Regions from separate parts of the Homo sapiens genome. Here regions 1, 3, 4 and 5 are each linked to region 2. The links come from fine-mapping of genetic effects on gene expression. A gene starts in region 2. Each other region holds a variant in brackets. All regions are shown on one strand. Distances are from middle to middle. Region 1 overlaps OSBPL10 (oxysterol binding protein like 10). Region 2 holds the start of OSBPL10 (oxysterol binding protein like 10). Region 3 overlaps OSBPL10 (oxysterol binding protein like 10). Region 4 overlaps OSBPL10 (oxysterol binding protein like 10). Region 5 overlaps OSBPL10 (oxysterol binding protein like 10).

Evidence for each region.
Region 1: its variant is fine-mapped to the expression of OSBPL10 in whole blood (TOPMed, PIP above 0.99).
Region 3: its variant is fine-mapped to the expression of OSBPL10 in unexposed skin (GTEx, PIP 0.96).
Region 4: its variant is fine-mapped to the expression of OSBPL10 in whole blood (TOPMed, PIP above 0.99). The same link has a PIP of 0.9 or more in blood mononuclear cells.
Region 5: its variant is fine-mapped to the expression of OSBPL10 in cerebellum (GTEx, PIP above 0.99).

The regions. Positions count from the first base shown.
Region 1 is chr3:31,948,753-31,954,977 of GRCh38, reverse strand. All of the region lies in intron 1 of OSBPL10 (oxysterol binding protein like 10), which reads left to right. Among named protein-coding and RNA genes, the nearest start is that of OSBPL10, 29 kb to the left of the region's middle. RefSeq lists an enhancer at 2,419-2,468. The variant G/C (reference allele first, on the strand shown) is at 2,542.
Region 2 is chr3:31,977,817-31,984,041 of GRCh38, reverse strand. It overlaps OSBPL10 (oxysterol binding protein like 10), which reads left to right and starts at 2,780. Exons shown (of 12, transcript NM_017784.5): 1 at 2,780-3,143. The coding sequence starts at 2,863. It overlaps ZNF860 (zinc finger protein 860), which reads right to left and starts at 2,292. Exons shown (of 2, transcript NM_001137674.3): 1 at 2,140-2,292. RefSeq lists a silencer at 3,021-3,090 and an enhancer at 4,645-4,694.
Region 3 is chr3:31,888,924-31,895,148 of GRCh38, reverse strand. The region is part of intron 1 of OSBPL10 (oxysterol binding protein like 10); the gene reads left to right. Among named protein-coding and RNA genes, the nearest start is that of OSBPL10, 89 kb to the left of the region's middle. The variant C/T (reference allele first, on the strand shown) is at 2,778.
Region 4 is chr3:31,942,108-31,948,332 of GRCh38, reverse strand. All of the region lies in intron 1 of OSBPL10 (oxysterol binding protein like 10), which reads left to right. Among named protein-coding and RNA genes, the nearest start is that of OSBPL10, 36 kb to the left of the region's middle. RefSeq lists enhancers at 803-1,404, 1,405-2,007. The variant G/A (reference allele first, on the strand shown) is at 2,640.
Region 5 is chr3:31,957,054-31,962,901 of GRCh38, reverse strand. All of the region lies in intron 1 of OSBPL10 (oxysterol binding protein like 10), which reads left to right. Among named protein-coding and RNA genes, the nearest start is that of OSBPL10, 21 kb to the left of the region's middle. The variant G/A (reference allele first, on the strand shown) is at 3,200.

The DNA of each region.
Region 1 (6,225 bases), 29 kb after region 2:
TAAACACACAAGTATCTACCACCTGGATTCTACAACTGACATTTTATTATACCTAGTTTTTTACATGTCTGTCCATCTGTCTCATCCATAGATCCATTTTATTTCTTTATACATTTCAGAGCAAACTGCTGACATTAGTATAGTCATAAATATTTTAGCATGCATGTCATTAACACATATCATTAACAATATTTGTTTTCAATTATTTCTCTTGATGTAAAATTTCACAATGAAATGCACAAATCCTAAGTGTACATTGCTAAGTTTTGACAACTGCATGCATTTTTACCCAACCTCTGTCAAGGCATAGAACATTACCATCTCCCCAGAAGCTTCTGTTGTGTCTCTTGCTCCTCCCCACTCCAGGCAACCACCATCCTTCCCCCTGCCCCCAATATAGATTGGTTTTTGCCTACTCTAGCATTTCATATAAATGGAATCACACAATATATACTTACTGTGTCTGGCTTCCTCTAGTCAGCATAACATTTTGGGATTCATTTATGTCGTTGTGTCTTATCAGTCGTGGATTCCTTTTTATTGCTGAGACGGCTAGCTTTAAAATTATGCCTGATTGCTGCAAGTAGAAAGAACCAGAAGCCCTCCTCATGGAACTTGGGATTGTTGCTTCTTTTTCCTTTCCAGCCTAGTGTTAGCAATGCACAAAGGCTCTTTGTAGAGGATTAGAGTTGAGGGGCTTAGAGGCCATTTAATTCAGTACCTCCTCCAGGCCTGTGGCATCTTGGCCAGGCAGCCATCTTTCTGACCCCTTTTTCTTCCCTCTTGGGACTGGTGTTAATGGGAATTCATGTGCAGAAGGAGCAAATGGGCCAATGCACGGGCACCTCACACATTTAATTGTTCTAGGGTTAAAGGATGAACCCAGACTTCTCTTAATGATTTTTGTTGTTGAGGATTTTGACATGCTTTGTGCATGCTAGAAATTATAGGACCAGTCAGCTGCAACAACTGGAGCTGGAAACAAGTTCCTATTTAGCTTTGATGTTAAGGAATCAACCACAGCACTGAAGCTGCTGAACTCTCTGATGGAAAAAGGCGTCATTCTGTTGCCTCTTGCCCCAGTTCCTTCTCTCCTCCTCTTTCATTTCTCTGTCTCTGTCTCTCTGTCACACACACTCCTCACATACACATAGAGCTTTTGAACATCTTCACGTATGGTGACTTGTCTGAAAGTTTAGCTGTCTCTTTTTTGAAGAAAATTGACATGATTGAGAGGGAGAAGGAAAAGGGTTAATGAAGAATGGCCATTGTGGCCAGGTGTGGTGGCTCACACTTGTCATTCCAGCACTTTGGGAGACTGAGGCTGGCAGATTGCTTGAGCCCAGGAGCTTGAGATCAGCCTGGGAAACATGGTAAAACCGTCTTTACAAAAAATACAAAAATTAGCCAGGTGTGGTGGCATGCATCTGTAGTCCCAGTTACTTAGGAGGCTGAGGTGGGAGGATTGCTTGAGCCCAGGAGGCTGAGGCTGCAGTGAGCTGTGATCAAGCCACTGCACTCCAGTCTAGACCCTGTCCTCAACAGCAACAACAACAACAACAGAATCACTTCTGCTTGGTAAGGGGGAAGCAGTGCCCACTCTTTGTGTGTGTGGGGGTATTAAATAATATAATGTGTGGCAACTGAGTGTTGGACACAGCAAGGCTCTGCAGATGTTATTTCCTGCCTTGCTTCTGTCCCGTGGAGAGGTTCTGAAACCTTTCTGCATATTAAAAGTATCTGAGGACCGGGCGCGCTGGCTCACGCCTGTAATCTCAGCACTTTGGGAGGTTGAGGTGGATGGATCACGAGGTCAGGAGTTCAAGACCAGCCTGGCCAAGATGGTGAGACCCCCGTCTCTACTAAAAATACAAAAAAATTAGCCAGGCATGGTGGTGGGCGCCTGTAATCCCAGCTACTCAGGAGGCTGAGGCGGAGCATTGCTTGAACCCTGGAGGCGGAGGTTGCAGTGAGCCGAGATTGCACCATTGCACTCCAGCCTGGGCTACAGAATGAGACTCCGTCTCAAAAAAAAAAAAAAAAAAAAAGTAGGAAGATTTTACAAAAATTTCATCACCAGATCCCATCCTGGACCAGTTGAACCAGAATATAGGACCCTTCCCCGACAGCCACAGTTTAAAGTCACTGATTAGTACCTGAGAGAATCATCTTCACACATATTATCACCACTAATTCTAATAACCACACAAGGCGGGCAGGTTTTAGTAATATTTAATATTTAGTAATATCAGAGCCAACTGATGTTGGGGGGACATTCTAACACAGGTCAGTCTGATTCCAAGTGCCACATCCTTCCTACTATTCTGTGTTCCCTCTGATCCTTTCGTGTGAATGGATTTTACATAGTAGTATGATCATCCCTTCATTCAGTTGTTGATTCCTTCTCATTGCTCCCCATGCTGTGCCTGAAGGTACAGTGGGGACTATTGTAGATGGGTTCCTGCCCCAAGTTGCTGGTGGGCTAGGAAGAAGATGCACAGCAGTGGTTGAACTGCAGCATGCAAAGTGCTCTCACGGAGC[G/C]TGACGAGGGATACGCCTGGATGTAGGGTGGGGAACTCTTTTGGAGGAAGTGCCACCTGGTTAAGATCTAGGGTGAGAGAGGAAACATGACTCTTGAAGGGAAGTGAAAGAAGCTCAGAAGGTGAAAACAAGAAAAGAACCTGGACAAACAGATGAATTTATCACTTGAATAGTTTTGCCTCACTGAAGAAAACATATTTCTTAATCCACCTAATGTGTACTAAGGCATGGCTTTCCACTTTGCACCAGGATTCTTTATTTGCATTTGCAAAATAAAACAAAATGCTTTATCGTAGGTTTTCTATAAATTCCAAATTTCATTGAATTTAAGAGTCTTTTGTTTAATATGACTATATGTTAACATGTAAATAAGTTTGTCTTTAGAGCTAACAAATCCTAATAAACAATACTCATTTCCCACCACTCATGGAAGGCACAGATTATAGTAGGAGTTCTGTAAGAGTTGCACACTAATGGAGTTTTAGGCAGGGATTCTTGAATCTTGTGAATTATATCTAATTTTTTTCTTCGCTGGTGGAAATCTTAAGAGTATAGCACGGTGTTAAAGCATGGGTTTTAAAGTTAATGAAAAGCTTAGTTTGTCACTTTCACTTAACTGGATGTGTAAAGTTATCCTACCTTTTTAACTCTCAGTTTCTTCATCAGTAAAATGGGAATAATAATAAATACTCCATATAATTTAAATATATAATTATATAGTTTAAATTAACATTTATATATTAGTTTCTATTTTTATAATTGTATACAATCATAGAATAAATGATCTAAATAGCTTTTTTCTAATATTTGAAAAATATAATTGATTTATATTAAAGAATATATGCAATCATATATGTAACAGAGCATAAGAAAATGAACAGGCATGAGCTCACCATTCACTCTAGGAAGGATAATATAACCACTAGTAGCTCATCTGCCCAAGTATTCTTCTTCAACTCAATCCTTTCCTCCCCTCTTTTAGGTAACCACTAACTCTTGAGTTTCAAGTTCATCATTCCTTCACCTTTGTATAATATAAAGTATTTTTATAATAGATATTTTACAAAAATAATGTGTGTTATCTCTCTGTATTATTTAGTTTTGTTTCTCAGTTTTATATTTTTAAAAGGATGTTGTATATAGTTTTCTGCAAGTCTTTTTTTTTTCCCGTTTTGTTTCCAAAATTGATTCCCGTTATTGTGTCTAACTTCAGTGCATTTCTTTTCAATGCTGTATAACATTCTTTGTGTGACTATGTCACAAATTTTTTATCCTGGTGATGGGTATTTAGGTTGTTCACCATTTCTTCCTCTGTGAACGGTGTTACTGCTGTGTGTAAGTTAGTATGTATCTCCCAGTACACACACGCAAGAATTTCCTTGTGATGTTGATGTAGAAGTTGAATTGTTGGTGTGTTAGTCCGTTTTGCATTGCTATAAAGGAATATCTGAGACTGGGTAATTTATAAAGAAAAGAGGTTTATTTGGCTCATGGTTGTGAAGACTGTACAGGCATGGCACCAGCATCTTGGCTTCTGGTGAGGCTTCAGGGAACTTTTACTCAAGATGGAAAGTGGAGGGAGCAGGCATGTCACATGGCGAGAGGGAGCAAGAGAGAGAGGAGGAGATGCTAGGCTCCTTTAAACAACCAGCTCTAACAGAGCTAACTGGTAAACTAACAGAACTAACAGAGTGAGAACTCACTTATTACCATAGGGAGGGCACCAAGCCATTTGTGAGGGATCTGCCCCCATGACCCAAGTGCCTCCCCTTAGGCTCCACCTCCAACATTGGGGATCACATTTCAGCCTGAGATTTGGAGAGGTCAGATATCCAAACTATATCCACTGGGCTTCAGGGTATTTGGATGTTCCATTTTATAAGATGATGTTAAGTTGTTTTCTAAAGTGGATGTGCCAGTTTAATGCCATCCAGTAGGGTATAAGCATTTGCATTGTTCTGCACCTTTTCTAGTTTTTGATATAGTAAGAATTCTTAATTTTGCCAAGCCAGTAGGTATACATGATATCTCATTGGTATCTTAATTTGTGTATCTCTGATTATCAGAAAGACAGCAGCTCTTCATGTGCTTAAGGGTCATTCTTTCTTCCTCTTTTATGAAATTCCAGCTTGGGTCTTTTGCTCAGTTATTTATTAGGTTGTCTTTTTTGCATTGGTTTGTAGGAGTGCTTTATATATTCTGCATACTTATCCTTTGTTGGATCTATGTTGCAAATATCTCCTTTTAGTTCATAGCTTGGCTTTTTACTTTATTTGTGATGCTTTTGAAAAACAAGTTCTTACTTCTTTTCCATATTCTCTTAATTATGCTGCCCACTGCTCAGTTTACTGGCAGAAACAGTCATCCCTCCTGACAGGCCCTTTTCGGATACCCTGGAAGCTAATACAAGCCTACATAAGTAGGATTTCCACCGAGACCTACTTTAAAAAATTTTTGCCAACTCTCAGATTGCTACTTCAACCCACTGCATAACTGACAACTAAAATTTTTCATTGAGAGCAGCTTCTAGCTCTGATCCAAACCAAGTCAGTCCATAGGTGGGACCTCAGGTCAGGAGGTTCTTAATGTGGTAGAATATGAGTATTTTCTTTTCTAGTTAACTAAAGAGATATTCTCTTATATTTTCTGCTGAAAGTTTCAGAAGTTACCTCTCTCAATTAAGGCTTTAATCTGTCTGGACTTGTGTCTGTTCTGTGAGGTAGGAACCCAGTATCCTTTTTTTTTTTTTTTTTTTTTTTTTTTTTTTTTGAGACAGAGTCTTGCTCTGTTGCCCAGGCTGGAGTGCAGTGAGGTGATCTCAGCTCACTGCAAGCTCCACCTCCCGGGTTCACGTGATTCTCCTGCCTCAGCCTCCCAAGTAGCTGGGACTACAGGTGCCTGCCACCAAGCCCAGCTAATTTTTTGTATTTTTAGTAGAGACCGAGTTTCACCGTGTTAGCCAGGATGGTCTTGATCTCCTGACCTCGTGATCTGCCCGCCTCAGCCTCCCAAAGTGCTGGGATTACAGGCGTGAGCCACCGTGCCCAGCCGGAACCCAGTATCCTTTTATATTTCTTGTACTGCACAATTGTTCCATGAGAATGGAGAAGGATGTATGCATCCAACTACTTGCACAGTTTTAGGCACATGGAAGGTACTCTGAAAAGGTTAGCTGTTGCTATTTTAACTTGTCTCCTGTTTTTTCAGTTGATTGGTTCAATCCTTCCTGAAATAATATGTGTGTGCGTTTTAGGAATGACAATTGAGGCAGATTTGCATTGGGCTAAGAAACCAACCTAAAACTCCTCTTTCCCCAACTTCCCCTTAGTATTGTTAGAAGCTTGATCTGTAAGTTTAATCACAGAGTAAATAATAAATAATGAGTTAATTGATTTGACCATTTATTTCCTTTGGACTTGGCTGGTAATTAAGGAATTTCTCTGGCACCTTACCAAACACCTGCTCCCTTTTCTCTGAATAATCAAATAGTCTTTTATTACAAAGTTAATTTCGCTACTCTGGAATTTACTTATTTGGCCCTGCATTACCATAGAGGTACTCTCTAACTCCATCATGGATGGTGGGGGCTCCAGCCATGATTCTGAAGTTCTCCTTAAGTCAATTCCTTCTTGAATGTCTTGGTCCAGATTGTACACACTGTACAGAAAACTTGATTTGGGGGCC
Region 2 (6,225 bases):
AAACAAAAACAAAAAAAACCCCTTAGGCTCTGAATTTTCAGGGAGATTGATTTGAGTAATAATACACTCCTGTGCTCCAGCTTGGCTGGCCCTACAATTGTTAAACTCTTCCTCTATTGCAAAAACCTGCATTGGCTTTTCCGGGTAACAAGCAAGATGAAACTGTTGGGCATTACAGTATGTATTTCAAATACTTTTTGCCAACTTATTATGTATTTTCCAAATTGTTTTTCAAACATAAAGACTTTTTCCTCTCCAAACATAATTCTGCAGGTACCTTTTCCCTATTTGCTATACTACGGTAGGTCAAGGAAAGCTTTCTGGAAGAAGTGACTTGTAATCCATAACTCCATGGGTGAGAAACACAAACCGGGTGAAGAGAGCAGGGAACAGTGTCACCAGCAGGAGGAACAGCATGTGCTTCATCACTCTTTCATGATATAGCCTCTACTTTCAGCACATCTGCTCCACTCACCTCTTGGACATTTTTGATCCCATACGGCTGGCTTGCTCCTGCCCCATCCTGGCCTTGACTATTCCTTTTAGCTTAGTTCCTTCCCCACTTGAACTGGTCTATCTCAAGGGTCTAATTTTTTAGTCCAAGGTGAGAATTTGTTGTGCTAGCTCATTCAGTCTTAGGTTGGCTGCATAAGGTGGAGTAATGGTGGCATAGGTTAGGTAATATGAAATAAAATGACACTTCTCCTCTTTTAGCAGGAGCTTAAGGTGGCAGTCTCCAATAAAAGGCATGTTGTTTTGGTACATAATGCTGACATTTATAGTCCAGTATGCACCTACCTTCCCACCTTCAGTCTGTATGTCAATGCAGGACTCAATGAACACTCATATATGATCAGTAAGTTAGCTTAGGCAAAGCTATGCTGTGGTAAAAAATAATGCTAAAATCTCAATGGCTTCAAACAAACATTTTGTGCATGTTACATGGCCAACACTAACTGGCTTAGGATCTGCTGTATTCCACACCTTCTCACTCCAGGACACAAGCTTAAGGAGAGTCCTTATCCGGGACATGCTGCTCTCCTGGGATAAGGAAAAGAGAAAGATGGTGGAACCATATGACTGCTCTTAAAGCTTATGTTTGGAAGGGGCATTCATTACTTCTGTTCACATTCCATTGCTCAAAGCAATTCCATGGCCAAGCCTAAGGTCCATGTGGAGGAAGGATACTCTTTCCATAGGAAGCGGCAGTAAATATTTTGAACAAATGAACATTCTTGCATAGTTTATTACAGCCGGTATCATTTGTCCCATTTTGCAGTGAGAAAACTAAGGCTAAAAGAGGTAATTTGATCAAGGTCATAGGTTAGAATTCAGCTCTGAATGGCTTCAAATTTGGTCCAGGCAAGCTCTTTTCAGATTTTTTTTTTTTTAACACTATGTAGGCACCTGGAATTGTAATTTACTCAGGGGCACAACCACTTCTCTTCAACTCCAGAAGCTTCTCCGTGCATCTCTAGAGCTAAACCACCCATGAAATCTTCCTGGAAGGATGTGAAGCTAGAAAGGGGTTGGGCTCGGGGAACTGTCCCTTTGAGAGCTGACTTTTCCATTTAGTAATTTTTTTTAACTCTTGAAGTATTTATCTGCTTGATGGGTTTGTAGATCCTTTGGACGGAGATCACCTATCATCTATCACCTTTTGTTTTGTCTGTGTGTGTGTGAGAGAGAGAGTCTGAGTTCCTCAAAGCTTTTTTCTAGGTAATTTTTGATACTTCAGATTACAATGGATATCTATATTCACAAAAAATATTAGTGGGATAGAAAGAGTATCTTTAGGTAGGAAGAGGGGCGCAGAAGTTACAGCCAACACAGAGAATCCTTCAATGTTTGTAAATATCTGTTAATTTCCCTTGCCTCTGGAGCAGTTTTCCCGGTTTCAGAGCCTCTGCTCCTAGGTGCACGTGCAGTGTGGTAGCAATGGATAGGTTTTGACTTGCCAGGTTTATGCGTGCCATTCAGGGCAGGGGATTAGGGTTAGGCCAGTGAGTGACCTAGGACACTCAATTTAAGGAAGCACTCGCACAAACCTGAGAGTTCGCGCGCCTCACCCCAGCCCAGCCGTGTGTCTGTTAAGCATTTATCATAATCCTGCTGCATGAAAATGCCCGGCGAGCTTACCTGTGAGGATCACCTGCCACTCCCCTCCTCCGCCAGACAACGCGGAGGGCCTCCCTGAGCTGTGACTTTGCTCCGCCGGTGATAATTTCCAGGTTACTGTGTAGGAGCGTCTGGCGCAGCATCGTGTGCGGAAGACCGAGAGAGGGAGTGTGCGTGTGAGCCTGTCAGGCCGGGCGGGTCCATATCCGGGTGGACCGGGTGGGTGGGGCTGCCCCTCCCTCCAGGTCCCGAGGTGGATAAGGGGTGGGGAGTGACGTGCAGAGATTCCCTTTCGCCCCTTCGGATCCAAGAGAGGGTGGCAGAAGGAATGCGTGGGTGACTTGGCGTGGATTTAGGGCGTGCCCACCCTGCAGATCGGCCTCCTAGAGTGTCCCGAGGGCCTGAGAGGCCGCAGGGACACGAAGGAAGAGAAGGAGGAACCCGAAGAGGGCTCGCCTAGCCGGCCACCCGCTCCGAACTTGCCCGGGAAACTAGTGCGGAGGGAGGGGCCGGGCCCTGGCCGCGGCGGGAGGAGGGGCGGCCGCAGCTGCATCCAGCCCCGTTGGCTTCCTTCCCAGCTCTCCTTCGCCTCCTCCTCCTCTTCCTCCTGTATGAGTCAGGCATTTCCCGGGGATTTGGAGCAGGCACGCGCGGCCCGGGCGTCCGGAGCTGTAGCAGCAGCAGCAGCCGCCGTGCCGGGGCCGCCACCGCGGCGGGCACCCGCGTCCCGGGCGCCCACGGACCATGGAGAGGGCAGTCCAGGGCACAGACGGCGGCGGGGGTAGCAACAGCAGCAGCCGCAGCAGCAGCCGTGCTACCTCGGCGGGCTCCTCGCCCTCCTGCTCTCTGGCGGGCCGGGGGGTCTCCAGCCGGTCGGCGGCGGCCGGGCTCGGCGGCGGGGGAAGCCGCAGCAGCCCGGGCTCTGTGGCCGCTAGCCCGTCCGGGGGAGGCGGCCGCAGGAGGGAGCCGGCGCTCGAGGGCGTGCTCAGCAAATACACCAACCTCCTCCAGGGCTGGCAGAACAGGTAACGCGCCAGCCGCCCGCGCCACCGCGCGCCGCTGTGTGTGTGTGTGTGTGTGTGCGTGCGTGTGTGTATGTGTGTCTGTGTATGTGTGTGCGCGCGCGATTGTGCCTTCAGCGAACCCAGTGATGCCTCCCAACGGTGCCCTTCCTGCGTCCCTGCTCCCCTCCAGGTGGGGTTCTCAGGATGGGGCGCGCCGTGGCTCCACCCCGGGACCGCACCGCAGTGGCGGGGAGGGAGGCGAGAGCCCTGGTTTTCTTCTATGCTGGCACCTGCAGAGACTGGAGTGGTGGCAGGAGGATCGTGCTGGTCCCCGTGCTCTGCTTGTCCGCGGTTTCCCGCACGCCTGAAGAATGACTGGGAAAGGGAGGCAGAAGGGGCGTGCTTTGTGCCGGGGTGAAAAAGCGTTAGCACGTCCGCTCCGATTACAGTAATTCTCTAAGTAACAGTTCATTTTAAAGTTTGGTGTTTCAGAACACCACCACCATCAACAAAAAACCTGCCACTTGTCATCCTGGGCGACTGTGCATACTCCTGCCCCAGTTTGTGCCTTGCAGCCTCCGATGTTTGTAATGGAAGTTTTGTTTAAAAACAGAAAGAGGCCGGGCGCGGTGGCTCACCTCTGTAATCCCAGTACTTTGGGAGGCCGAGGCGGGCAGATCACGAAGTCAGGAGTTCGAGACCAGCCTCGCCAACATGGTGAAAACCCGTCTCTACTAAAAACAAAAAAAATTAGCCGGGCGTGGCGGCGCGCCTGTAATTCCAGCTACTCCGGAGGCTGAGGCAGGAGAATCGCTTGAACCCCGGAGGCAGAGGTTGCAGTGAGCCGAGATCGCGCCATTGCAATCTAGCCGGGGCGACAGTGCGAGACTCCGACTCAAAAAAAATAAATAAATAAAATAAAATAAAATAAAATAATAAAAAGAAAGAAAAAATACCCTCCCCCTTTTAATATTAGTAGCAATTTACATTATTATCATTATTTCCTCTTCAGGTCCCATTTGAAGTTTCCTGCTCACTTCCCCCTTGCAGTTGAGAAGCCTAGTTATGGACACGTGGAAGGATGGGGCTGTCGAGGAAAGGGGCTCAGGAGGCACTTGGAATGGTGGTAGTGTGTGTGATCTGCCATCGTGAGGAAGACAAGAACAGATGTGGCACTACTGTTTACTTTTTGTTTTTGTTTTTTTTTTCAATTTGTTTTCCAAAAACAAGCCAGAGGGAAATACAAGTGTCAGTGCGAGGAGAACAATGCTTTTTGGAGAGGTGGTTGGTGGGATATTTTGTCCTGCCTATTTAACAGTCTCCAGATCTTAATAGACTTGGGGCTCTTAAGGATGTTTGTGAGATTTGAATTATACCCTGGAAAGTTGCTTATCTCTGCTGCATGGACTATATTACTTGGTTATCTCTTCCTGTAGATTGTTTGGAAATGTTCAGATTTGCTTCCATCTGAAACATATCAGCCAGTTATCTGCACGAAACTCAACTTGGAGGAAGAGGTCTTTTGAAGTATGGAAACTGAGTTGTTTCTATATTGATATTCTACATATAGGACTTTCTGAGTCACCTGGGCTTCCTGGGAGATGTGTTACTATGTTAGTGGAAGTTGCACTTAACTTTTGAATCCTTTTATTTCTCAAAATAGTCCTAGTGTCTGCTGTTGCCTCTCCCTTCCCCTTTCAATTCGTGAAAGCTGAAAAAGAATAGGTAGAATGCGTAGGTAGAGGGAGATATGAGATGACTAAATCTGATTTCAGTTCTTGGTAATTATGTCTCGTTAATGGCAACTCAAGGTGCCTTGTCAGTAACAGCATTTTGTTGGTGTGTTGAGCAATCACTTAATGCTTTTTCTTCAAGTAGATTATGAGGCCAGCAAAGCTTTTACCCTGGATTACAGTTATTTTATTATTTACTTGCTGGGGAACAATATTTTACCTTGCAGTCTGTATTAAAGGATTTGTTATTTGGAGTGGATTTAGGAGGCATTGGAGTAACATTCTTTTGCATTATTTTAAACCCATTGTGGTGTTTAGATTGGAGGCAAGGTTGAGAAGAAGCACATTTAATGCCAATAATAATACCTACGTGATAGCAGGCTACCTAGGTGAAATGTGGTATTAAGTACACTCCTGAGCATGCTTAAGTGATGTCTCATCTTTATTGAGTTTGTTTACTGCAATTTATAGCTGTCTGCCTATGTTTGTTCTTACCACAGTAGACTCACCGTTTTCCAAGTCTACCACTGACTCCATAAGCATCGTCTGTAATTGTTAACATCTCAGTGTCAGGGTTTCTATTTCCCACATTTTGTTCTTTGAACGATGGCTGAGGGTCCATTAGTGGTTTGGAGAAGATTACGATGACTCTGTGCTTGCAAAATTCTCCCTTCTCTAGGGGTCTTATGAAGGGACAGATGGATTAGTGAAAAGGAAGAGAGAAGAGGATAAAAATAGAAACTTTGAAAATGTATTCATTTGTTCAATTATCTATTCACAGACTGTTTTATTGAGCACCTACTATGTGGCAGGAACTGTTCTAGGAGCTGGAGCTACCACCCTTCCCTGGTCCAGGGAAATGCCTTAGTACAAATAGTTAGCCAACTGATTCCTGCTGCCTTTCTTTCTGGGCCTCATAGCATCTTCCTTTGGCAGTTCTTTTCAAAGTGCCCACAGTTAATGACAAATCTATAGCAACCAAGTTCTTGGTTCATCCTCTCAGGCTGCTGTGCAATTGTAGTGCTCTTCACCAGCTCCCAGGACTTAATACCAATCACCCACTAACAGTTTGTACCCTGGTGTCCTCTTGCATGTTCTCAAGTTGCTGTAAAACTTATATTTTAACACTTGGCATCATATTCTGCCTTTATTTGTAGCCTCATCCTCATGCCCTTAGGAAGGCAGTTTGGGCCAGAACACAAAATAAACGACATAAAGAGAGGTCACAGAGAAGAACACTGTATGATGGGAACGTGCTCAACTCAGGAGAGTAAGTTCAGGACATTTGGCTCACACTCACTGGATGAGAATGTGAAATACTTAGAGTATGGGGAAAACATGCATTAAGGGCTTTCTGTCATTCATTATTA
Region 3 (6,225 bases), 89 kb after region 2:
AAAAAAAAAAAAAAGGCCGCAGAGAATTCTAATATGCAGCATTTATGTTCTGTCACATAAAAGCAGTTTGGAGGTAGCTTTTCCGGGTTGGTTTGGGGATTCCACAGAAATCAGAGACCCATGCTCCTTCCAGCTTTCTGCTTCACCATCCCTAGAGTGTGGCATGGAATTTCAGCCATTGCATTCATCTTCTAAAAAGCAAGTGGAGGAGGGAGGGAAGGTAATACGACAGCATTTTTCCTCATTAGTTAGAACTTAGTCAATTGATCACATCTAAGTGAAAGGAAGGCTGGGAAAGATATTCCGGCATAGCATGTTGTGTCCGACTAAAAACTAGCGTTCTCTTGAGAGAGAAGGGAAATAGGTATTTAGTGGGTAGTAGTCTGTCTCTGCCACACCTGGTTTCAGACCGCTAATCAATCAGTGGCAGAGCTGAAATTCAGATCCTGGCTTCAACCCAATAATGTTTCCACTCCTCCCAGTAAAAATGGAATGAGGATGTTGGAAAATAGCTGGTGGATTTAGGCAATACGTGTTTGGAAGAGAAGTTCTTTTCCTTTCTCTTGGGCTTGCTGCATCAACAACAACAAAACAAAAACGGATTTGCTTGACAATAAATTAGGGCCATGGGAATCCATGAATCTAGAAATAAACAGATGAGTGTATGGTCACAAATAGGATGTTTCAGTTCTTACTGACACTTTGTCAGCATTTGACATGGTCACTCTGTCCTTTCTGTGCTTCTGGTTTTCCTCTCTGCCTTGTTTTCTCTGTTCTTTTCCCTGTTTAATGTTAGAATTCCTCAAGTCTTGGTCCCAGGCCCGTTCCTTCCTGCCTCCCCTTGTCCTCCTTGTTCCTCTTTCTGGGCAATCTCATCTATGCCTGTGGCCTCAATTTCTACTTATTTGCAGATGATTTGCAAATTCACATCTCCAACTCCGACCGCTCCTGGGCTCCAGATTCATCCATCCAACGGCTAAGTGACATTTCTTGGAGTAAGGTATTTCAAATGCAGCATTCCCAAAACTGAATTCCTGCCTCATCAAATCTTGTCAACTGAAACTCTGCCATCACCACCTTGGTCTAGGCTATTGCCAGGATCACTGTAGATATCACTTGTATTAAGGTATAATTTAAACATTATAAAATTCACTCATTGTAAGTATACAATTGAGTTACTTTTAGTAAATTTATATAGTTTTGTAACTATCACCACAATTCAGTTTGAGAATATTTCTAACACCAACATTTTTTTAAAAAAATAAAATAATCCCTGTAAGCAGTTTGCAGCTAATCCTGCTCCCACCCTTAGCCCCAGACAACCACTTATCTTTTTGTCTCTCTGTTTCCCTTTGCTGGACGTTTTATATAAATAGAATGATACAATTTGTAGTGTTTTTCATCTGGCTCCTTTAGCATAATGTTTTTGAGGTTCATCCATGTTGTACTTTTATTGCTGAATAGTATGCCATGGGATGGATATGCCACATTTTCTTTATCCATTCACCAGTTAACATTTAAATTATTTCCAGTTTCTGGCTACTATGAATAATACTGCTTTAACATTCGCATGTAAGTCTTTGGTGTAGACATTTGTTTTAATTTCTGTTTAGTAGATTCTTAGGAGTGAAACTGATGTGTTGTAGGTTAAGTTTATTTTCACAAGCAGATGTTCTATTTCACATTCCTACCAAGAGTGTGGAAAGGTTCCAGTTTCTCCATATCCTTACCATTTGTCATTGTCTTTTTAATTATAGCTGTTCTAGTGGGTGTGAACTGGAATCTCATTGTGGTTTTAATTTGCATTTTTCTAAAGACTAATCATGTGCATCTTTTCATGTATTTATTAACCATTCATGTATCTTCTTTGGTGAAATGTCTTCTTTGGTGAAATGAAATATTTTGCATTTCTTGAATGGGTTGCTTCTCTTAGTTTTGAGGTGTAAGGGTTCTTTGTATATTTTGCATGTATATACTTGGTATTTAGTCAAAGATTGGCCAGAGATTGTGCTTTAGCCAGAAAGGCTTTGACTCTGCCCCTCTATCTGCTTGTTAGGAGGGAGCACATTAACATTTCAGGCTGTTTCCGTGTCCTTCCTGGCTCTTACTTTTTATCGCTCTTCCCTGTGCCTGAGCATAGGCTCTGTTGACCAAGGATGTATGGGTGCCGTGGGCCTGCTCTGGTCTCTGCTGCAGTTGTGCTCAACCACCGGTTAACAGATACATGAAAAGTTTAGCCCCATGGTTTTCTCACCTCCTGAAATTCCCAATTAAATCCCTGGCTAGTCTGCTGGTCCGTGGCTTGCTCCAAACTGGGCAGCAACCTCAGGCCAGTGGAGCCCCTGGTCTTCCCACTGCATCTGCCTGCAATTGCCACTTTACCTGATGATGATCCGAATCATGTGAGCAATTGCCCTCACCCTCGCCCTCTCCCTCTCCCTCAGGCAGCAGAACCCTGCTGCCCCAGTCGAACTACCGGTCAGCATTGCTAGGAGGAGGCTGGGGACAGCCCAGGCATGATCCCCAAGCTCTGCTTGTTCTTATCAAAGTTTGGTCAGTTTCTACTGTTCTGAAATGGTTGCTTTTGACAGTTTTGTCCAGTTTTATAGTTGACTTTTTTGGGGAGAGAATGTGTTAGTCTCCCCAGTCGTCACGTTGAGAGAAAGCGAGTCTCTGCAGCCGCCTTTCTGCTCCCTCTGCTCCCACCTGGCTTCTTTCCTGGCCTTTCCCTACTTTGGAGCTAGAATTCTCTTTCTACAAAGTAGTTCTGGTTCTGT[C/T]CCTGCCGCTGGTTGATGTTAGGATAAAGTCCCGCCACGCCTTGTAGGCGCAGCATGGTTTGCATTGCCTACGTCTTTAGCCCCATCTGATAACACACATTCTTTCCTTCTCTTTGCTCCAAACACACTGGTTTTTCTCCATTCCCTCTCCCCACTCCGTCCTCAGGGCCATACACGTGCTCCTTCCTCTGCTTGGAACTCTCTCCTCTCCTCTTCCCCGAGTCCATTTCTTCACACCTCAGATCTCAGTTCCTCCGTCTCCAGACAGGCCCTAGTAAGTCAAATTCTACTAATTGACTCACTTCTATTACAACACACAATCACAGCCAGAGTTTGGCACTCATTTTAGTGAATATTTTATTCTCTGCTTCCCTCCCCCGTTAGAATAGGGGCTTTGTCACCCATACCACATGTATCCTTAGCACAATACCTGGCTCATAGCAGATAGTAAAAATTTTTCCGAAAACAAATGAGTGAATTCTTACAAATAAAACTTAGTTTGGGGACTTGGAGCTACCCTCTTCAAAACATTGTTGAGCTTTTATATGGATTCTCTTCTCTTTAACCATTACCTGAATAAACTTATCCAGAGTGCTTTATTCATATCACAGAACCTATGTACAGTTGACCACACTGACAGCTGAGTGTGAGCCCCTGCCAAATAATATTTCCGTGGCACTGGCACCCCCCAAAAATGGCAAACACAAGCTCTCAAGTTCTGTCTTGTTGGCATTGTAGTAAACTGCTGATACAATGCAATATGAGCATCAGCATCAGATCTGATTTACTGTCTGCATTTAGGAATGTGATATGAACATTTGGAAATTCTTGTTTTATAAGCAGGCAGACCTTTGGGCACAGAGACGGTGGGATGGACTGCAAGAGCGAATTAGCCAGCTTTTTGTTTTTGCAAATGTGGAAATCAAGTCTTAGAGTGGATAAAGAACTTGCCCGAGGTCACAAAAATGAAAACAAGTGGTTCCCAAAGTGTGGTCCTACCAGCAGCATCAGCATCACCTGGGAACTTGTTAGAAATCAAATTCTCCTGCTCCACCCAGACCTCCTGAATCATAAGCTCTGGGGGAGGGGCCCAGGAAGCTGTGTTTTAACCAACTTCCAGGTGATTCTGATGTGGGCAAAGTCTGAAAACCCCTGGCCTAGGGCATAATTAGGTCTCTGACTGCCGAATCACACTACCTTCCTCTATGCTTTGTTGCCCCTAGAGAAAAAGTAAAGGACACTTTGAATTCAGGGACGGTGGAATTTAGAGACTTAGTTGATGTTTAGGGAAAAAGCTGAGCCATGGGGCTTGTTGATGATTGGGTTTGCTTCTCCTGGCCTCCACAGGACAGCTCCCATCTCTCTTGCTCTTGGTGGGTACTAAACTGGGGTTGCTCACCCACTTTTACCCCAGGGCTTTAGCTAGTATCAGAATTTTTTCAGCGTGACTTTCAGGATGGGTGTGTTATAGTACAAAGCAGAGACGTGAATCAGGACTTAGCTCATTTCCAGGTAAGTTCCAACATCGTCAGTATCAAGAATAAGATATAATTTGTGAGCATTAAGACGCAGATTGGTATCGAAATTTTCACCTAAAGACACCAGAAACTCAAGAGTTAATAGTTCAGAGGGAAATGAGGCAATATTGTGAAAGCCTATATTAATTCTCATAAGACAGGTCTCAGTTCTTTCGGGCTTAAATCAACTAGTCTTTAAAAGCAGATCGAGTCTCATCATAGATCAAATCCAAGCTCAGTGCATCAAATCTTGAGTTAAAAGTTCACTTTGACTTATTCTGGTGCTTTATGAGGTCTCCAAAGCAGCAGCCTCTCAGGCTGGTGGCTCTTAATCTTGAGGTGCTTCACTCAGCCTGGCCCCTGGAGCCCCTCTGCTCAAGTGAGCACCTTCATAATGCCAGGTGATGATCCCATTATGCAGGAACTCGATGCCAGGTGATTTCAAACAATGTCTTTAAACCTTTCTCAAAAACACTTCCAGAGTGACAAAACCAAGAAATCCACTGTCTGGGCTGCTGTGATTTAGGAAAGCTGGGGTTTGGCTGTTTTTGACTAAGACAAAATGAGGTTGGCTAATGCTTAAATAACATTCATCTTGGTTATATGGGTGTGTGGGTGCTCAGGTGTTTGAATGAATGATTGAGAGAAATGCTTGGCATACCAGATGGAAAACAGGGTGATGAATAACGGAAGGTTTTATTTTGACTCTGATTTTGCACTGTTTTTTGTACTTGAGGGTGCTTCTGAATCACTTGGAAAACTTCTTGAAATTCACATTTCCGACTTCCTGACCTTCACAAAGATCCTCTAGGTGTAGGTTGAGAGTCAGAATCCACATTTTCAACAAGCTTTTCAACTGATTGAGAAGCAGAGAGCAACTGGACCAAACTTTAAGAAACATTATTTTTATTAAGTTTTAAATTGACACATAATTGTACATATTTATGGGCTACATAGTGATGTTTTGAGACATACAACATACCATGATCATATCAGGGTAATTAGCATATCCATCATCTCAAACATTTATCATTTCTTTGTGCTGGGAACATGCAATATCCTCCTCCGAGCTATTTGAAGCTATATATTATTCATTAGCATCATTGTATTGTGCTATAGAATGCTAGAAATCCTCCCGTCTAGCTATAAGTTTGTATCCTTTAACAAATCTCCTTCTATCCCTCCCTTCCCCCAACCCTTCCCAGCCCCTAGTATCCTCTATTCTACTTTTTATTTCTAGGAGGTCAATTTTTTTTTTTTAAGTTTCCATACATGAGTGAGAGAATATGTGGTGGTTAAATTTCTGTTCCTTGCTTATTTCACTTAACATAGTGTCCTTCAGTTCCATCTGTGTTGCTGAGAATGACAGGGTTTCATTCTTTTTTAAGGCTGAATAATGTTTCATTGTGTATATAGACCACATTTTCTTTATCCGTTCATCTGTTGTTGGACACCCAGCTTGATTCCACATCTTGGCTATTGTGAATAGTGCTGCACTAAACGTGGGGGTGCAGATGTCTCTTCAATACACTGATTTCCTTTCCTTTGCATAAATCCCAGTAGTGGATTGCTGGATCATATGGTAGCTGTACCTGTAGTTCTTTGAAGAGTATTCATACTGTTTTCCATAATTGCTATACTGGTTTACGTTCCCACCAATAGTGTATAAGAGTTCCCTTTTCTTTGTATCTTCACCAGCATTTGTTATTTTTTGTCTTTTTGATAATAGCCATGCGAGCTGGGGTTAGATGATTCCTCATTGTGATTTTGATTTGCATTTTCCTAATGATTAGTGATGTTGAGCATTTTTTCATATATTTGTTGGACATTTGTATATCCTTTGAGAAATATCTTCAGATCATTTTTAAATGATGAATTTAAAATCAGATTATTTTTAAAGCAGATTATTATTATTATTATTATTTTTTCCT
Region 4 (6,225 bases), 36 kb after region 2:
ACTTCCTGGATGGTTTCCAGAGAGATGGAAAGATGAAAAGACTCATAATGATGAATGGCCCTTCCCTCTTTCCCTGCATGTATATTGTTCTGCTGGACTTCTAGAATGGACTCTGTCCATTGTGGATGTTGCTGGTGCCCTGCACAGATCCCCTTTACTGGGTCAGGGCACCCAGCCCTTGACTAATTGAGGGAGTTAGCTGCTAATACTTCATGCCTGTACCTTTCACTGGAAGATTCTGCCCTGCAGGGGAGGAACCCTCTAGCCTGGAGGTGACTGGGAGGTAACCTGCATCCTCCACTCTGGTGTGACCTTGTACCCAGTGACTGACATCACTTAGTGAAGTCAACGATTGGGAGTATCAAACCCAATCCCCTGCTTCCTGGCAGCACAAACTTTGTACAGTTTACTTCAGAGCTTTTTGTGGGATCAGACGGAGGCTGGGCTTATCTCAACTCCTATGCAGTTTCCCTCACCTTCTTCCAGTTTCTCCGGATCCTGAGAGCACTTCCTCAAGCACTCATTTGCATAGGAGTCGCCACATCAGGCTCTGCCTCCAGGGAATATGACCTAACACAGATTCTTTATCTATTTTTCTCCTCCAGCCTGTCATACTGTGCTCAGCGTGTGGAGTGTTTCCACAGGAGTCTTCCGTGATCTGTTAGGTTCTTTTGAGGGCTTGTTTCATGTGTTGGTCATCTTTAGACTTCCACCAAACCTCCCAACCCCATGCCCTGCCTGAGTACCTTCTCAGTGCTGTCGCAGGAATTGTGGAGTAGGGGAAGGTGGCATATGCAGAGGCCAAGAGGAGCTGGTAGGGGACTTCTGATGTTGGTGTAAGATCTGCCATTGGTAATTTGGACACTCGCTATAGGCAGGCAGAGGACAAAGCATGCTTCCGCCTTTGTGAGGAGGATAGCATTCCAATTTTTCAGCCTTAGTGATGCTGTGGGAACTGCTGTTCAGCTGAGTTGGGTGGAGGAATTGGCACCTCCAGCTTTGGTGATGTGCTGTGTGCTTAGGGACAGCCTGGGCCGAGGGTTGACCTTGTTCGTGCCTAGATCCAGAGCTGCTACACTTCTGCAGATGGGATCCTGGTCTCTATGTCTCCCCTACTCACCCTTACCTTCCAGTAACTGCTCCCCATCCTTTATTTTTTGTGTTGGCCCAGTGTTTCTGATGTCCACTGAGTTGTCAGAGCCTGAAATTTAGTGAATCATTCTGATTACTGCTGTGTCTCGTTCTCTAGTATCTAACCAGCCACTGAGGCATAGCTGCCTTTCTGGTCTGCTCCCTCCTGCCTTTGTCTCTTCTGATAACTGCTCGTCTCATTTGTCAGTATCTAACAGCCACTGAGCCGTAGCTGCCTCTCTGGTCTGCTCCTCCTGCCCTTGTCTTTGTTTCGATGCTCCTTGCATCTGGTCTGGACTCCCACGATCATCTTCTTAAGGCCTCCCTGAGCCCAAGCTCCTCTTCTTCTAGGCACCTCAACACCATCTCCATGGTAACTTTTCTAAAGCATGCAACACTAAAAACTCTTGGGTGACTTCCTGTGACCTCCAAAGGAAGTCTCAGCTCTGCTAGAATGGGACCAAAGCCCAGCTCCACCTTGAACTTGTGTCATAGCCTTGCTTCTTGTTCCCTCTCCTTAGCCGGGCAGATGCCTTGTCCTTTGATAAAGGCTTCCTGTCACCTCCTGAGGGCTCTTGTGCTTTTCGCAGGTGGATGCCATTACCTTTACCGCTGTGCCTCCCGCAATTGCTCTGTTCACACGCTGTCCGCCATCTGCCTGCAAGGGCCCAGGCAGGGTCTTACTCATCATTATGTCATTGCTTCAATAGAAGCCTAATATTTTGTACATAGTAGTCAGGAAGGAAACGACTTAAAAAATTCTTAATTTTTCTTAATACAAGGGTTTTTTTTTTTTTTGATAAAAAACAACTTAATAAAATTCTTAATTTTTCTTAAATTCTTAATTGATTTCTAATTTTTTTGTTATTATTGAAAAAGTAAAAAACTTGAGTTCCCCCTTTTCATTAAAAAACTTAGTAGTGGCTGGGTGCAGTGGCTCACGCCTATAATTTTAGCACTTGGGGAGGCTGAGGGGGGTGGATCACCTGAGATCAGGGGTTCGAGACCAGCTGGCCAACGTGGTGAAACCCTGTCTCTACTAAAAATACAAAAATTAGCCGGGCATGGTGGCACGTGCCTGTAATCCCAGCTACTCAGGAGGCTGAGGCAGGAGAATCACTTGAACCTGGGAGGCGGAGGTTGCAGTAAGCCGAGATCATGCCATTGCACTCCAGCCTGGGCAACAAGAGTGAAACCCATCTCAGAAAAAAAAAAGCATAAACCAAAACTTAGTAGTGTCTGTTGATTCAGGCAATCCCTAATGGCAAGAGGTTCTCTGAATTGAGTAATGCCTTAAGTAGTTTGGATTTTTTTAGTCATAATAGGATCTGCAGATGTTTGGCCAGTAACCCTATTTGTATGCATGATACGTTATTCGTACCAGACCAGGGGTCACAGGCTCAAATATTCTCCAGGTCTCAGGCTGTGTCACAGAAACAAGGGTGTCAGAAAAGCAGTATAAACCCCTCTGGTCAAGGGCTGCTGACCTCTGCTTTGGCATCCTGAGC[G/A]TCTGGAGAAGGTGGGAGCATGGAGACCTGAGAGTGCATCACATCTGACAGGGCAGCTGCTTCTCAGCTATGGCCTATGGTTGCCGTGTAGTGAATGGACCCCATGTTGAGATCCTTGGATATTGCAAGAGAAACTAGAGATGTAGATTTGTGTGAGAAGCTGTCTTAATTTTTAAAGATTGTCAACTGATTCAAAACAATTTTTAAAGCCAAAAATAAAAACAATGAACAAACCAAAGCCTGATTCTGGTCAAAGCAAGTGGGCTTGAGGGCTGGATCGTATGTCACTGACTGACTTTTGTTTTGAGGCTTCCGGTCCAGATAGTGTCCCTAGAGCATATTTGTGGTGACTTTGGGAGCCCCATGTCACTGGTGTTGACTTTGGGGACTGTAACTTTGGACCAGAGTCCTAGTGGCAGGAATTTGACGCCTTGTTTGCTGATGAGGGAGGGAATTTTAGGTAATTTTCTCCTCCCAAAATGACCCTGGCACCCCTTTTGTTAGCATGGCTTGTTCCTTCCTGTTTTTTTTTTTTTTTTTTTTTGAGACGGAGTCTTGCTCTGTCGCCAGGCTCGAGTGTAGTGGTGCAATCTTGGTTCACTGCAACCTCTGCCTCCCAGGTTCAAGTGATTCTCCTGCCGTGGCCTCCCGAGTAGCTGGGACTACACATGTGTGCCACCACGCCCAGCTAATTTTTGTATTTTTAGTAGAGACGGGGTTTCACTATGTTGGCCAGGATGGTCTCAATCTCTTGACCTCAGGATCTGCCCGCCTCAGCCTCCCAAAATGTTGGGATTACAGGCATAAGCCACTGTGCCTGGCCTTTTTTTTTTTTTTTTTTTTTTTTTTTTTTTTTTTTTAAAGAGAGGGGGTCTTGCTCTGTTGCCCAGTTTGGAATGTAGTGGTGCAATCATAGCTCACTGCAACCTTAACTCCTGTACCCACTCTTTTCATGTGAAGCAACCAGATTGGCTGATGGATGTGCTGGGAAGAAGGTGTCTCCAAGGAGATGAGTCAGTGCCACAGCACTGTATTATAGGCATTATGTATTATAGGCATTAGAGTTGTCCTTAGTCTATTCAGGCTTGTATAAAAAGGACAAAGGGAAAATTTAGGGATGGGGACAGCTATCAGGAAGGTGGTGGTTTTACATAAATCTTTCTCTCCACATGTCCATATGTAAATATATCCATGCTTTAGCAGGCCTGTTAGTTTAAAATATGGATTGCCATTTGAAAACTTGACATTTTCCTAGATGTCTTGAACCTTAGTTCATCTAGCCTGGCCACATCATTTAATAGAAAAGATAATTGCTAACACATGGTTTACCAGTTTGGAAGCTGTTCTTTTATATTTTATGATTATATAATTAATTTATTTTTACATTTAAAAAAGCTGCTTATTTTTGCTGGTAGAAATATAGATTGGTATGACTTTTATGGAAGACAAATAGGTAATCTTTATCAACAGCCTTAGCAATGGTTATATTGTTTGATGCAGTGATTCTACTTGTTGTAAGATATGCTAAAATAGTAATCAAAGAAGTGCAGAAGAAATAATTCATGAAAATGTTCATTGCTGTGTTATTTATGACCACAGAAAATATGCAACAGCCTAAATTGGGGAATAGTTAATAAAGTTATGCTTTATCTATCTGATGAAATATTATTCATATATTAAGTGTTGTTTCTAAAGAACTTTTTTTTTTTTTTTTTTTTTTTTTTTTGAGACGGAGTCTTCCTCTGTTGCCCAGGATGGAGTGCTGTGGTGCAGTCTCAGCTCACTCGAACCTCCGCTTCCTGGGTTCAAGTGATTCTGCTGCTTCAGCCTCCTGAGTAGCTGGGACTACAGGTGCGTGCCACCATGCCTGGCTAGTTTTTTTGTATTTTTAGTAGAGACGGGGTTTCACCCTATTGGCCAGGCTGGTCTCGAACTCCTGACCTCGTGATCCACCTGTCTTGGCCTCCCAAAGTGCTGGGATTACAGGCATGAGCCACTGTGCCCGGCCTCTGAAGAACATTTAATGACAGTGGAGTTAATGCTCTTGATACAATGATAAGTGGAAATAACCCAGTTTTAGTTAAAATATCCATGTATGTCTGTCTCTGTGTATGTGTATAACTAGACAGTAAGATTTTAAGGGAATATTCTGAAATATTAACAGCGACTTTCTCTGGGTGGTGTAATTATTTTCCAGATTTCCTACAATGAACATGTGTTGCTTTTTAATCAGGAAAAAAGTCCAAGTTTTTTTTAAAACTATTGAATGTACTTGATTAAAAAAAATACTGTGTATTATATGACCTAGCAATTCTACTCCTAGGTATATACCCAAAATAATTGAAAGCAGTGACTCAAATAGATACTTGTATGGCAAGGTTCATTGTAGCATTATTCACAAGATTCAAAAATGGAAACAACCCAAGTGTGCATCAGTAGATGAATGGACAAACAAAATGTGGTTTATATGCACAATGGAATATTATTTAGTCATGAAAAGGAATGTAGCTCTGATACATGTGGCAACATGGAGGAACCTTGAAAACATTATGCTAAGAAGTCAAATAAGCCAGTTACAAAAGGACAAATATTGTATGCTTCCCATTGTATGAAATATCAATACTAGCCAGATTCATAGAGGAAGAAAGTAGACTAGAAGATACCAAGGGCTGAGGAAAGATTGGAATGGGGAGTTATTGATTGATAGTTACAGAATTTCTCTCTGGGGTGATGAAAAAGGTTTGGAAATAGATAGTAGTGATGGTTGCATAACAATTGTGAATACAACTAATGTCACTGAATTGTACACCTAAACATGACTAAATGGCAAATTTTGTTATGTGTATGTTATGATTTAAAAAATTTGACATAATTTTTTTTGTCAAAACTGTGTTAGCTAATTGTGTGTTTGCTATTTTACATATGGTGTTTACTTTCAATGACAGTGGCTATCACTTTTTGGTTCATTTATCTCAATTTTTGCTTTTCACTTTTACCCCTACAGACATGCCTGTGCTTTAAATGGGTTTGTTGTTTTGAAGGTTTCAGATGCCAGGCTCAGATGCTGACAATGGAGCCAGGCAGGTAATGAGGCATCTGGGAGGATTTAAAAAAAATGTATAAGAGGAAATGTGTCACTTTTTTTTTTTTTTTTTTTTTGAGATGGAGTCTCACCCTGTCGCCCAGGCTGGAGTGCAATGATGCGATCTTGGCTCACTGCAACTTCCAACTCCTGGGTTCAAAGGATTCTCCTCTCTCAGCCTCTTGTAGCTGGGATTACAGGTGCCCGCCACCCAGCTAATTTTTGTATTTTTAGTAGAGACAGGGTTTCACCATGTTGACCAGGCTGGTCTCAAACTCCTGATCCGCCCGCCTTGGCCTCCCAAAGTGCCGGGATTACAGACGTGAGCCACTGCGCTCAGCCCGCTTTTTATATTGAGCCATACATTGCATTCTTGTGGCGCCATCTCGGCTCACTGCAAGCTCCGCCTCCCAGGTTCACGCCATTGTTCTACCTCAGCCTCCCGAGTAGTTGGGACTACAGGTGCCTGCCGTCACGCCCAGCTAATTTTTTTGTATTTTTAGT
Region 5 (5,848 bases), 21 kb after region 2:
CATTAGACCTAAGTTCTGGCACAGTGCCTGGCGCATAGTAGGTACTCAATATTTGTTTAGTGAATGCTATCAAAGCAGCAGTGATTTTGGCATTGGCTTTTCCCATTTGTGCATTTACCTTGCACCCAAGTGATTTGGATTTGCTCCCCTAGACAAGACTTTATGTGCTCCTGTGGTCTTTGTGAAAACAGCCAAATGGAAAAGTTTTGTCTCAGGGAGCTTGCGTTACAACTTAGTGTAATGGGAGCGATTGAAACCCTAACTGTACATTTCTTGCGGGTAAAAGCCCCCTGGAATCAGGCAGAGTATTTATGGCACTTCTCCTGTGCTGGTTCCCATTTAAAGATGGTGAAATCTCAAAAAAAAAAATAGTGTTTCATTACTTTTATAATATGTAGAACATATAGTTTACCATTTTAACCATTTGTAAGTGTACAGTTTGGTGGCATAAGTATATTCATACTGTTGTGAAACCAATACCACTTTTCATGTCCGGTACTTTTTTATCATCCCAAATTGAAACTATACCCATGAAATAACTTTATTGTTGTTATTTGCTTAGAAAATCATTTATTCAACAGAATTATAGTTGTTATCTGTGTTAATAGTAGGCTACAGGACCTCGAATCCAAAATTGGTGATGCCGGCCAGGCGCGGTGGCTCCCACCTGTAATCCCAGCATTTTGGGAGGCCAAGGTGGGCAGATCACCTGAGGTCAGGAGTTCAAGACCAGCCTGGCCAACGTGATGAAACCCCATCTCTACTAAAAATACAAAAAAATTAGCTGGGCGTGGTGGTGGGCATCTGTAATCCCAGCTACCCAGGAGGCTGAGGCAGGTGAATTGCTTGAGCCTAGGAGGCAGAGGTTGCAGTGAGCTGAGATCACACCACTGCACTCCAGCCTGGGCGACAGAGCGAGACTCCGTCTCAAAAAATAAAAATAAAAAAAAGCAACCCTCCCCTCTGCCAAAAAAAACTCTTAAAAAAAAAAAAACCAAAACAAAACTGGTGATGCCAAAATTAGAGAACTTATTTAAATGTAATTAATAGCAATTATCTTGAAAGGGAACCTTTAGAAATATAACAGGAACATCTGCTGGTGTACATTAATTAATTTCTGTAAAGATTATAATTATACACTAGAATATATGCCATTTAAAATGAAATTTAATACTCAGGAGGCTGAGATGGGAGGATGGCTTGAGCCCAGGAGTTCAAGGCTGCAGTGAGCTATGATTGCACCACTGCACTCCAGCCTAGGAAATAGAGTGAGACCCTGTCTCTAAAAAATAAATAAATAAAATACAAATGTCAAAAGACACCAATAATTAGCCCAGCCCCCTCCCAGCATTATTAGCATTATTAACATTATTAACACACACACTCTCTAAATAGAGCAGTTTTAGGCTCCCAGCAAAATTGGAAATATAGAGTTCCCATGTCTCCCCTACTCCAACACATGCACAGCCTTTTTAATGATACTTTACATTTTAAAAATAGTATCTGTCTACTAAAATAAAATCAGAGACGCTAGCTTTCCGAGCCCTGGGAGCTCACTTTTCTCCTGAAGCCTTCCCTGGCTTCCTGGGCACTGCAGATCCCTCAAATTTAGGTTCTACCACCACATTCTTGTTTGGTGACTCGTGATCTAGCCTCACCCACAAGGACAGTACAGGGCTCGTGTTTGCTTAGGTGGTGCTCCATATTTGATTGTTGAGCCAAAGAGTGGGTTTGGAGAGCTTCAGAACTTGATTTGTTATAGAATAGCTTCATTCTTTATGGAGTGGGTTGCACATGAAGAATATTTGATGTAGAATGGCTCTGGCAAGTTAAAAAAAAAAAAAAAAAAAAAAAGGCTGTAGCTTCTTGGTTAAACATTGACAGAAGGAGGTCCCTTGGGGAATTTGTGAGCTGCTAGGTGGTTTACACCATTTTTTGGGCAGCTTTGAGGTTCAAGCAGTTTGGTTTTAACCCTTTGTAGGTCAGGTTTTTAGACCTTGTAATCTATTTTCCCTTTTAAAGGAGGAATAAGGATTAAAGAGGATAAAGAGGATGGTTTTTCTGTAAGAGAGAGTGCTGGTAATTCTCTCCTGGTGGTGAGCATTTGTAGGGTGGGGTAGGGGCACAGATGGCACATGGCTGATGGCCTTGAGGGAGAAGTGGGTTGCACAGTCTCTTGCAACAGTTTCCAGAGTGGGGAAGGTTCAGAGATGCTCTTCTGGTTTCTGAGCTTGTGAAGAGAGAGACGTAGAGGAGAAAGGGTTAACTTCCATTTTTACTTGGAAATGGATAGTTTAAGCTGGGGAGGGCCTGTGTTATGTAAACTAGCTTGCAACCTTCTGGTGTCCATTTTAGCCTTGCTTTCTCATTTAGGTCAATTGGATCTGAATAAGGAATTTGGCCAGACAACAAAATATTTAAACTGGTTCCCCTATTGCATCTCATTTCCACAGTCTGTTTATAATCCTAATTGATGCAAATGCCCTTGTTATTGTGAATGTGAATACCCTGAATGCAGGGTTCTGGTTTGTTTCATTTCACATTGTATTACTGAACGTGGTGAGGGAAGCTGAGGGTCTGAGTGACAAGCGGAGTGTGGCTGGATCCAGCCTTATTTTGAAGGATTCCTTTGGCACCCAGGGGCCCAGGGATGAGGTGCTGTTTTGGGAGGCTGGTAAAAGTTCAGAAGCGATCTCTGAGACTCCCTATCTGCCAGATTCCCAGACTGTGAGCTGCTTCAAGATCAGGGAAGTTTTTCGGTACGTAATTTCTTAAGCACTCAGCAAAGTGCTAAGATAGTCTTCCCTGCCTCAGGGAGTTTGGAAGGACATTTTTCCATGGAGTACATCAGACCTAAGAGGGAGAGTTTTGTTTTTCTTCACTGATAGGCAACTTTCATTTTCTGCATTTGAGAGAACCTGATTTTAAGTAGCACAGTGGCCACGTCACAATCCAGGAATAATTTTGGCATTTTTCCTGTATCCTTTTTCTGCAAGTGTTTTTCACAATAAACCAAAATAACCTAGTCAAGGGGAGAGGGAGGCTAACATTTTCTTTCATGGAGCATTATTCTGAGGCTTGAAGGTGCTCAGGTGAACTTGCCCAAGTTCTGTTTTACAGGTGAGGAAACTGCCTCAAATAGATGACATTTAATTCAAAGTTACACACGGAGTTTGTCGCTGAGTTAGAACAAGAAACA[G/A]AATATGCTTCTCAGTCAGTTTTGGAAAAACTCCAGAAAGGTGATGCTAAAAATGGTCTTTTTGCCTTGTGTTTTGTTATATAGCAAAGAATACCCGCTGGCTTCTCATTATCTAGCTGATGCCCTGAGACTCATCTGATGTTCTGGCTTATGTATTAGCTGCTTTGAGTGATGGCGAAAACTTCAAAATGTGCAGAGAGCTCTTCCTTGAACCCAGTGATCCTGGGGTATTAACAGATTGTGTTTGGGATATCTTATCTCTGAGTCTCATGCTAATTTCCTCTGATATATAGCAAAAAGACTGGGTTTAACAGTAGTTTTCAGTAGACAAAGTTGCTTTTATTTTATTTTCCAGGTTATGAATACAGAACTGGCCTTTAGGACTGCTTCTGATCTATCAGTAGATAGTACACTGTTTATAGTGCTGCAAAAAGAGAAGGTGGACTTGTAAATTCAGGAAGGGACCTGGCTAAATTTGATTAGACTGCATTAAAAATTTGAGACTTTTCTCTGTGAGCCGATATCTCGTAGCATTTCTTTAGGACAGAGCACTCTTTAATTGAGAGTTGTTCTTGCCTGGACCTTGGCTTGTTGGCAAATGCAGCATGTGTGATTCCATTGCGTGCGTCTCCACTCTTGAACTGCTACTTTGGATCACAATTACTGGAAGTGTCTTCTAGGGCCCTGACCCTTTAGAGATGACATTTGACCTTTGGGAGTCTCTTCCATGGTGCATTAATGAGTTTCCCATGTGCTGGAGTGCTTACTCTTTGGTTTAGTACAGGGGTTAGAAAGGTTTTTTTGTAAAGAGTCAGATAGTAAATAATTCAACTCTGCCATGGCAGCATAAAAGCAGCCCTAGGCAATATGTAAACAAATAGACATGGCTCTGTTCCAATAAAACCTTATTTGCTAAAATAAGTGGTGGGCTGGATTTGGCTCAAAGGCCTGTTCTCTAGTTTAGAGGCTTTTGGAACACAAAGCCGAAACACCCTTGGCTCTTGTGTGAGAGAGAGAAGAATCCAGTATTCAGAACATAAACATCTCAGTTGAAATGTAGCATCCATGGTGAGAAAGATGCTTTGTGTTATTGAAAAGTTGACATAACAAATATAAAGACTTTTTTTGGGAAAAAAATGGGCCCTTGTCCTCCCATCCTAATACAACTGTTACTGATTTTTGTGCATTTCTTTTGAGTCTTGTCCTCCTGCATATGTACCTCTGTGAAGTCCTGATGTGCGCAATACCAGTTGATATTATTAAAAAGCATAACACACCATATATCTGACAGTTGTTACTACATTGGATCTAGTGAGGCCTAAAACATACAAACTAGATTTGTCAGAGAAGATATTTTTAAGGACTAATTTGTGAGGTGTACTGTCATTTTGTGCATTTTTAACTTTTTTCAATTGCAAGAGTAATACTTCACTCATTATTTACTTCAGCCCTAAATATTAGTAGAAATCAGGCCAGAGCTAAAGTAAATCAGGTAATTGGCTATTCAGGGGCTGAAAGATGTTTAGTGGCAAAGTCACGCTTTAGCTCTAAGTTAACATTGTGGTCACAAGGGTATTCTGGTGGCCCGAGAGTTACTGCACCCCTCCTTGCAAATGGCTACAAAGGCTAAGACATAGCACACGTTTAATTTTTTTCTTCCTTCTTAGCTGGTGCACACACAATAAACCAAGAAACAAATGACCATACTTCAGTGTCACTCTATACAATGTGACTTTAAAGATGCATTTTTAAAAACAGGAATCTGGCCGGGTGCGGTGGCTCACGCCTGTAATCCTAGCACTTTGGGAGGCTGAGGTGGGCAGATCACGAGGTCAGGGGTTTAAGATCAGCCTGGCCAACATGGTGAAACCCCCCCTCTACTAAAAATACAAAAATTAGTCAGGCGTGGTGGCATGTGCCTGTAATCCCAGCTATTTAGGAGGCTGAGGCAGGAGAATTGCTTGAACCCCGGAGACGGAGGTTGCAGTGAGCCGAGATTGCACCACTGCACTCCAGCCAGGGCGACAGAGCAAGACTCCTCAAAAAACAAACAAACCAAAACAAACAAACAAAAACAAACCAATAACAACAAAAAACCCCAGGAATCTCCAAGTACATATCTCCACGAATGGCAAGGTTCTTTTTCACAACAGTGCTGCCATTGCTCAAAATATTTCAAGGCTCCTTTTCTGGAATTGCCTTCAGAATAAGTTATAAGCCACAGTAGAGTAGAGGTCTGCCTGCTTCATAGTCTTTTCTCATTTTTGACTAAAAATGGTGTTCGCCAGTGCAGTTCCCTTGCCTCAGCTGCCACTGTGGCTCTGGGTTGCTTTCAGCTGTTTCCAGATCTCATAACTGTGCTCAGGGGAGATGGATTTATCGTAACTGAGTCAAAGGTTGTGGGTAATGACAATAAGTCAGGAGTCTCTGTGGTTATTTCTTTGGAAAGAACAAAAATATTTATGTGTCAGTTGTGATAGTTAAAAAAACAAAAAGTTCTGCCTTTGTACATCCCTGGATCACCATGCCAACATGATTTTATTTATTTTTATTTATTTTTTATTTTTTGAGACAGGGCCTCACTCTGTCGCCCAGGCTGGAGTGCAGTGGCACAGTCTTGGCCCACTGCACCCTCTGCCTCCCGGGCTC